Regions from separate parts of the Homo sapiens genome. Here region 1 is linked to region 2. The links come from fine-mapping of genetic effects on gene expression. A gene starts in region 2. The other region holds a variant in brackets. All regions are shown on one strand. Distances are from middle to middle. Region 1 overlaps SCEL (sciellin). Region 2 holds the start of FBXL3 (F-box and leucine rich repeat protein 3).

Region 1 (3,024 bases), 580 kb after region 2:
AGAATCGTTTGAACCCAGGAGGTGGAAGTTACAATGAGCCAAGATCCAGCCACTGCACTCCAGCCTGGACGACAGAGCCAAACACCATGCCAAAATAATAATAATATTTGTTTTTTGTCACTTGATAGTTGTTAGGAATGAATGAAATAATGGGTATAAAATCCATTTTTTAAAAAAGGATATTACAAATGGAAATTATTAACAAAACAGTTTAGTTATAGCTATAGCATTAGATGGAATGCTTAGGGGAACCAGGTGAGAATTTTTAGCAGATTATTATGTCACTCATTAACTGATTTTTTTTAATGGCGTCTTGCTCTAATTATATGGTTTTATTTTGGGGGTAAATGAGAAACTACGTCAGTGTACCAGTGATTGGTAAGAAGGTCACAAATTTTAGTCTTTTAAATTAAGAGCATAGACTGGTATCAATTTATCTCAAAACTCAGTAGTAAAATTTATCTTGAGTACATGTATCCTTTAAATCAAAACAGTCAATTGATTTAATTCCATTTTTATTTATGATGTTTTTTGTTTTTTTGTTTGAAGTTCCAAAGACCTTAATAACTTCATCAAAGTGTATCCAGGAACAGAAAAAAGTACTGAAGGGTAAGATTTAATAAGCTCCCTTTTTTGTTTCATAGTAACCAATGCCTAAAAGTATAATTAAAGCATCATTTCAGCTGACTGATGCTGAACCCAATGATCCTTCAAGAAAAGCCATGTAACCCTGCTACCTCACATCTGAAATGTTAAAAATTTTGGTCAACCAATTTCTGATACAATGAGACAATTACTCTTTGACTAATCAGGAATAAAGTTGTTTTCCCAGGATGGACTGGACATTTTTATTCATTGATTTATTATTTTTCTTAAGCAGAAGGGATGGATGACACAGTAGAGGGGAAAGAGAACTAGACCGGACCCCATAGTTGTGGGTCTAGGCCTGTCTCTGCTCCTCTTACCTGTGTGTGCTCAAACTAGTCACTTCTGTTTGGGCTTCAGTTTCTCATCCTCAAAGTGAGGAAATTGCACGAGGAGCTCTCCCAACACTCCCAAATCTAATTCAGTTACTAAGTTCCAATAGATATTTGGTGTCATGGTAAGGCACAGGCATTCTGCAGCCAGATTACCTAGCTTTAAATCCCACCTCTGTTACCACTAGCCATGTGGGAAAATTACTTAAGGTTTCTGTGTCTCAGTTATTCCCTCTATGAAACTGGAATAATAATACTTCCTATGTCATAGGATTGATGTGAGTATTAAATTAGACAAATCATGTAAATCACTAAGAAGAGTGCCTGGCCTGGGACATCAAACATTTTCTAGAAGTTCTTATTCATTATTTCTCTCCAGTTTTAGTTAGGTCCCTATATGTATATTCACAGTCAACACTGAAAACCCCCAGCCCTCTGAGATGATCTCTAATTTTATTATTTTAATAAATATTTTATAATAAAAGTATTTCTCTGTTTTAACAAACACTTGAAACCATTCGATTTAAATCTACCACTGATCTGATTTTCTATGTTTTTAAGGGGCCAAAGTCTCGACAGCCTCATTAAAGTGACTCCTGAAAGAAACAGAACTAACCAAGGGTAAGGTTTATGGAACTCTCTATTTCT[C/T]CCCCCTTTTTTTTTCCTAATGAGCTTAAAAACATGACAAATTGTGCGGTGGCTTACGCCTGTAATCCCAACAGTTTAGGAGGCCGAGGCGGGAGGATCACAAGGTCAGGAGATGGAGACCATCCTGGCTAACATGGTGAAACCCTGTCTCTACTAAAAATACAAAAATTTAGCTGGGCGTGGTGGTGGGTGCCTGTAGTCTCAGCTACTCGGGAGGCTGAGGCAGGAGAATGACATGAACCCAGGAGGTGGAGGTTGCAGTGAGCCGAGATGGCACCACTGCACTCCAGCCTGGGCAACAGAGCAAGACTCCGTCAAAAAAAAAAAAAAAAAAAGATAAATTGCATTGTCCCGCCATAGAGACAACCAATGATGGGACCCAAATCAACAGATCCTGTGTCAGAAATCTAGTGTTCAAGCACTTACCGAAGGCTCTCTGGCCACAGGAGAGAGAATTCCTTGAAAGACAGGAATGATCTCTTACCAGTATGAGATTGTGTTCCATGCTGAGGATTTCCTTAAAAATTAATGGGGATTCCCCATGAGACAAAACATCACCCCAAACAATTTCCCTGATCTAAGTAGCCTAAAGAAAGGTCTTCATATGATAAAAAATTCTTCCTCCTTCTTCTTCCATCATGTATTACCTCTCTTCTTATTGTCTACCACCCAAACAACTCTTAAAGTTGGGAAGTCATTTAAAAAATTATTCTCAGTTCATTGAAAAAAGAATGACATTTGTCTTTTATATAGAAAGAATCTTCTCTAAGACATATCATGTTAAGTAAATAAACAGGCATAACAAAACCACCAGCTTGTAAATGTATATTGTTATATGAATTTGAACATGAGTTAGATGTAAAAGATACCAAGATATATATCTTCTCTCAGCAGATTTCCTATCTTATTTTGCATATTGGAATACAGTCTATTTTACAGTATGTGGCTATCAAACAGAGCTTATTTAGACTAGATCAGAGGTCAGCAACTTTTTCTTAATGGGCTAATAGTAAATAGTTCTGGTTTCAGGGACAAAATTGTCTCTGTTTTTAACTAGTCATCTCTGCCAATAGTGTGAAAGCAGCCATAAGTACCTTGTGAACAAATGGGCATGGCTGCGTTTCAATAAAACTTTATTTACAAAAGCAGGCTGCAAGTTGGATTTAGCTTGAGGGCCATAGTTTGCTGACCCCTAGACTACACAGTATTTTATTTGAGTGTGTGAAGAGAATCAAATCTGACTGTAGTTGAAGTGGATTCTGAAATACAGCCTACCACCCCCCTGATTTGGCATATATTAATACAACTTTATTTTTACTGTTGAGGGTCAGACACTAAATCCAGAGACCATATAATTACATTACACATTAAGATTCAGTGAAAGACAGTTGCCTTTTCC
Region 2 (2,500 bases):
TATCAAACTAATATGCATTCTTTGGCTGAACTACAAGAATAAAACACTATAAAGAGGTTAACTCACAACTAAATGCTTAGAGAGCGCACAGTGGCGAAAATCTGTCTACAGGTCATATAGATAGATAGATAACTGATAGTTGATGGTATTTTTATAAATATTTCAGAGATAACAGAAACTAAGTTACTTTTTTTTCAAGTTAGAAAAGGAGGATTCTAATTAAAAAATCTGGGTCACTCAACTGGATATCATTAGCAACGACAAAATAAAAATGATCTCTCTCACCTCTCAGCTTGGAGATACAGACCATTTACTGGGCTGCTTCCTGACCCCTGTCTGCAACCCCACCTAAAGGACTGCCCACGCCAAAGGCAGACGCGAATCCGCTCAACACAAGTTGACCAAGTTTTTCGCCTGGCTAAGCGGCAGGGGCGTCCCCTCCTCCCTGCGCCACCTCCCCACCGACTGGCTTCCCCTGACATTTCTCATGCGCCCCACCCTGGGCAGTTTGCTTTGACATTTCAGTGCCTCATTGCTCAAGCTACCAGCACGGGCGTAGCCGACGCCGGGAGAGCCCACAGAGTGCGAGCTCCATGGTGCCTGTCACCAGCCCCCGCCAAGGGTCATAAAGCCTGGCAGGAGCCGCGGCGAACCCGGGAGCGGCGGCGTCGCGGGCAGGCTGCAGGCGGCCGCCGCACACGCACCACGCCTTGTTGACATGTTTGGAAGCAGGCACGGCGGGGAAACGCCCCCAAGCAAGCTCCAAGGTCTGGGTGCCGCGCCCCGCGCCCCGCCCGGCACTCCTGAGGAGCGGCCCGCGCGCGCCCCGGCCCCCGCGCCCCCCCCCACCCCACCCCACCCCGGCCCGCCCACAGACGGTCCGCGGTCCCTCCCCGGCTCCGCCGTCGCAGCGGGGCTCGGCCCTGCCCCTCCGCCGTTACCTGCTGCCGGGGGCGGCTTCCCCCACACACCACCCCGTGCTCCGGGGACGGCGGCGGCTGCAGGTCCCGCGGCTCTCACATGAGGCGCCCCTGGCCCCCCGCTTCGCGCTCCCGCAGCCGCGGCCCCCCGCGCTCCGCCCGCATCCGAGGCGCTGGTCCCGCGGAGGGCGCCAACGCGGCTCCACCTTTGCGGCTCTGGCTGCCCAGAAAGAAGCTTTCCTTCTCAGTCCCGCGCTGTCTGTGTTCAGGGATCCCCGGCGCCGCGAGAGACTACCTCAGCGAGCGGCTGCCACCGCGTAAGCTTCCTGCACCTGGGCCACAAACAGCGAGTCTAAAATGGCGCCCAGGGCTCGCGGCCGCGCGCTTCCCTGGCGCGTCCCCGCCCAAGGGGGCGGGAAGGGGGCGGGGGGGGGGCGGAGCCCGGCGGGAGTAGGGCCGCGCCCAAGCGGGAGCGCGCGCTGCGGCCGCCCCAGTCTCCTTGCTGTGGGACGAGCCTCTGCCTTCCTGCCAGAGATGTGACTCCCGCTTGAAGGGGATTTTTTTTGTTGTTTTGAGATGGAATGTGGGAGGGCTGAAGCTAGCTATATGTGGAAGAGACTATCTGTGGCTGAAACTGGAAGGTTTAGGGAGGTGGAGCAGAAAAAAGAAAGGAAGGAGTCTCGCCGGAGCCTGCTGGGGACCGCGGCCCGCGGGTGGCCGCCCCGGATGCCTGAAACCGAGGAGTTAAATACAGTCTCCGAAGACCCGCGCATCGATGTGCATAAGTGGTGCTTAAAAGATGCCAAGGAAATGTACCAGAATAGTGAGAGTATTAACGCTGGGATTGCACATGGTTTTTGTTTTTCAAATATTTGTATTTCCCAATATTTCTAAAGTGGCTTTTATCATTAGAGTTATTACATTTTAAAAACGACATTTGCTTTATGAAATAGAGTCCTGAAATTTGTAAATAGCTTTTGAAACGCAATGGGGAAAGTAAAGGATTACAAAGCTGCTGAAAAGAAAACCTCTGGTGAATCCTTTTGTAAATCAAGGCATCTTTGTAACTGCTACCTAGTTGACTTGTTTTAAAGTTTGGATTTTTTGATACTGCGTTTTCTTACAGTTAGAAACATTCTTAGGTGCAATATCATTAAGTTGAATCATGCGCCATTCCTCTCTACACCTCCAAAAAAAAAGAGAGAAAGTAGTTTTCCATTCAAAGATGTCTTAGAACACTCAGACCCATGTATAAGACACTGAAAAGCAGTGGTGCCCAGGGAGCTCTCCGTTCTTCCCGTTTTCTCAAGAAATTGAGCTAGGAAGCCATGTATAAAGTTACGTCGAAGTTCAGTGTGAGGCCAGGAGTGGTACAGGCTTATGTCTGTAATCCCAACATTTTGGGAAGCCAAGGCAGAAGGGTTGCTTGTGGTCAAGAATTGGAGACCAGCCTGCGCAATATGTCCAGACTCTTGTCTCTACAAAAAAATAGAAGAGTAATAATTTTAAAAAATCAGACGAGCTTGGTGTAATCCCGGCTACTACTCAGGAGGCTGAATCGAGAGGATGGCTGGAGCCCA

What was found.
Region 1: its variant is fine-mapped to the expression of FBXL3 in whole blood (INTERVAL, PIP 0.98).

The regions. Positions count from the first base shown.
Region 1 is chr13:77,608,509-77,611,532 of GRCh38, forward strand. SCEL (sciellin) reads left to right here. Exons shown (of 33, transcript NM_144777.3): 21 at 550-609; 22 at 1,539-1,598. Among named protein-coding and RNA genes, the nearest start is that of SCEL-AS1, 3.5 kb to the left of the region's middle. The variant C/T (reference allele first, on the strand shown) is at 1,626.
Region 2 is chr13:77,025,886-77,028,385 of GRCh38, forward strand. FBXL3 (F-box and leucine rich repeat protein 3) reads right to left here and starts at 1,274. Exons shown (of 5, transcript NM_012158.4): 1 at 942-1,274. RefSeq lists silencers at 815-874, 895-1,174, 1,345-1,394.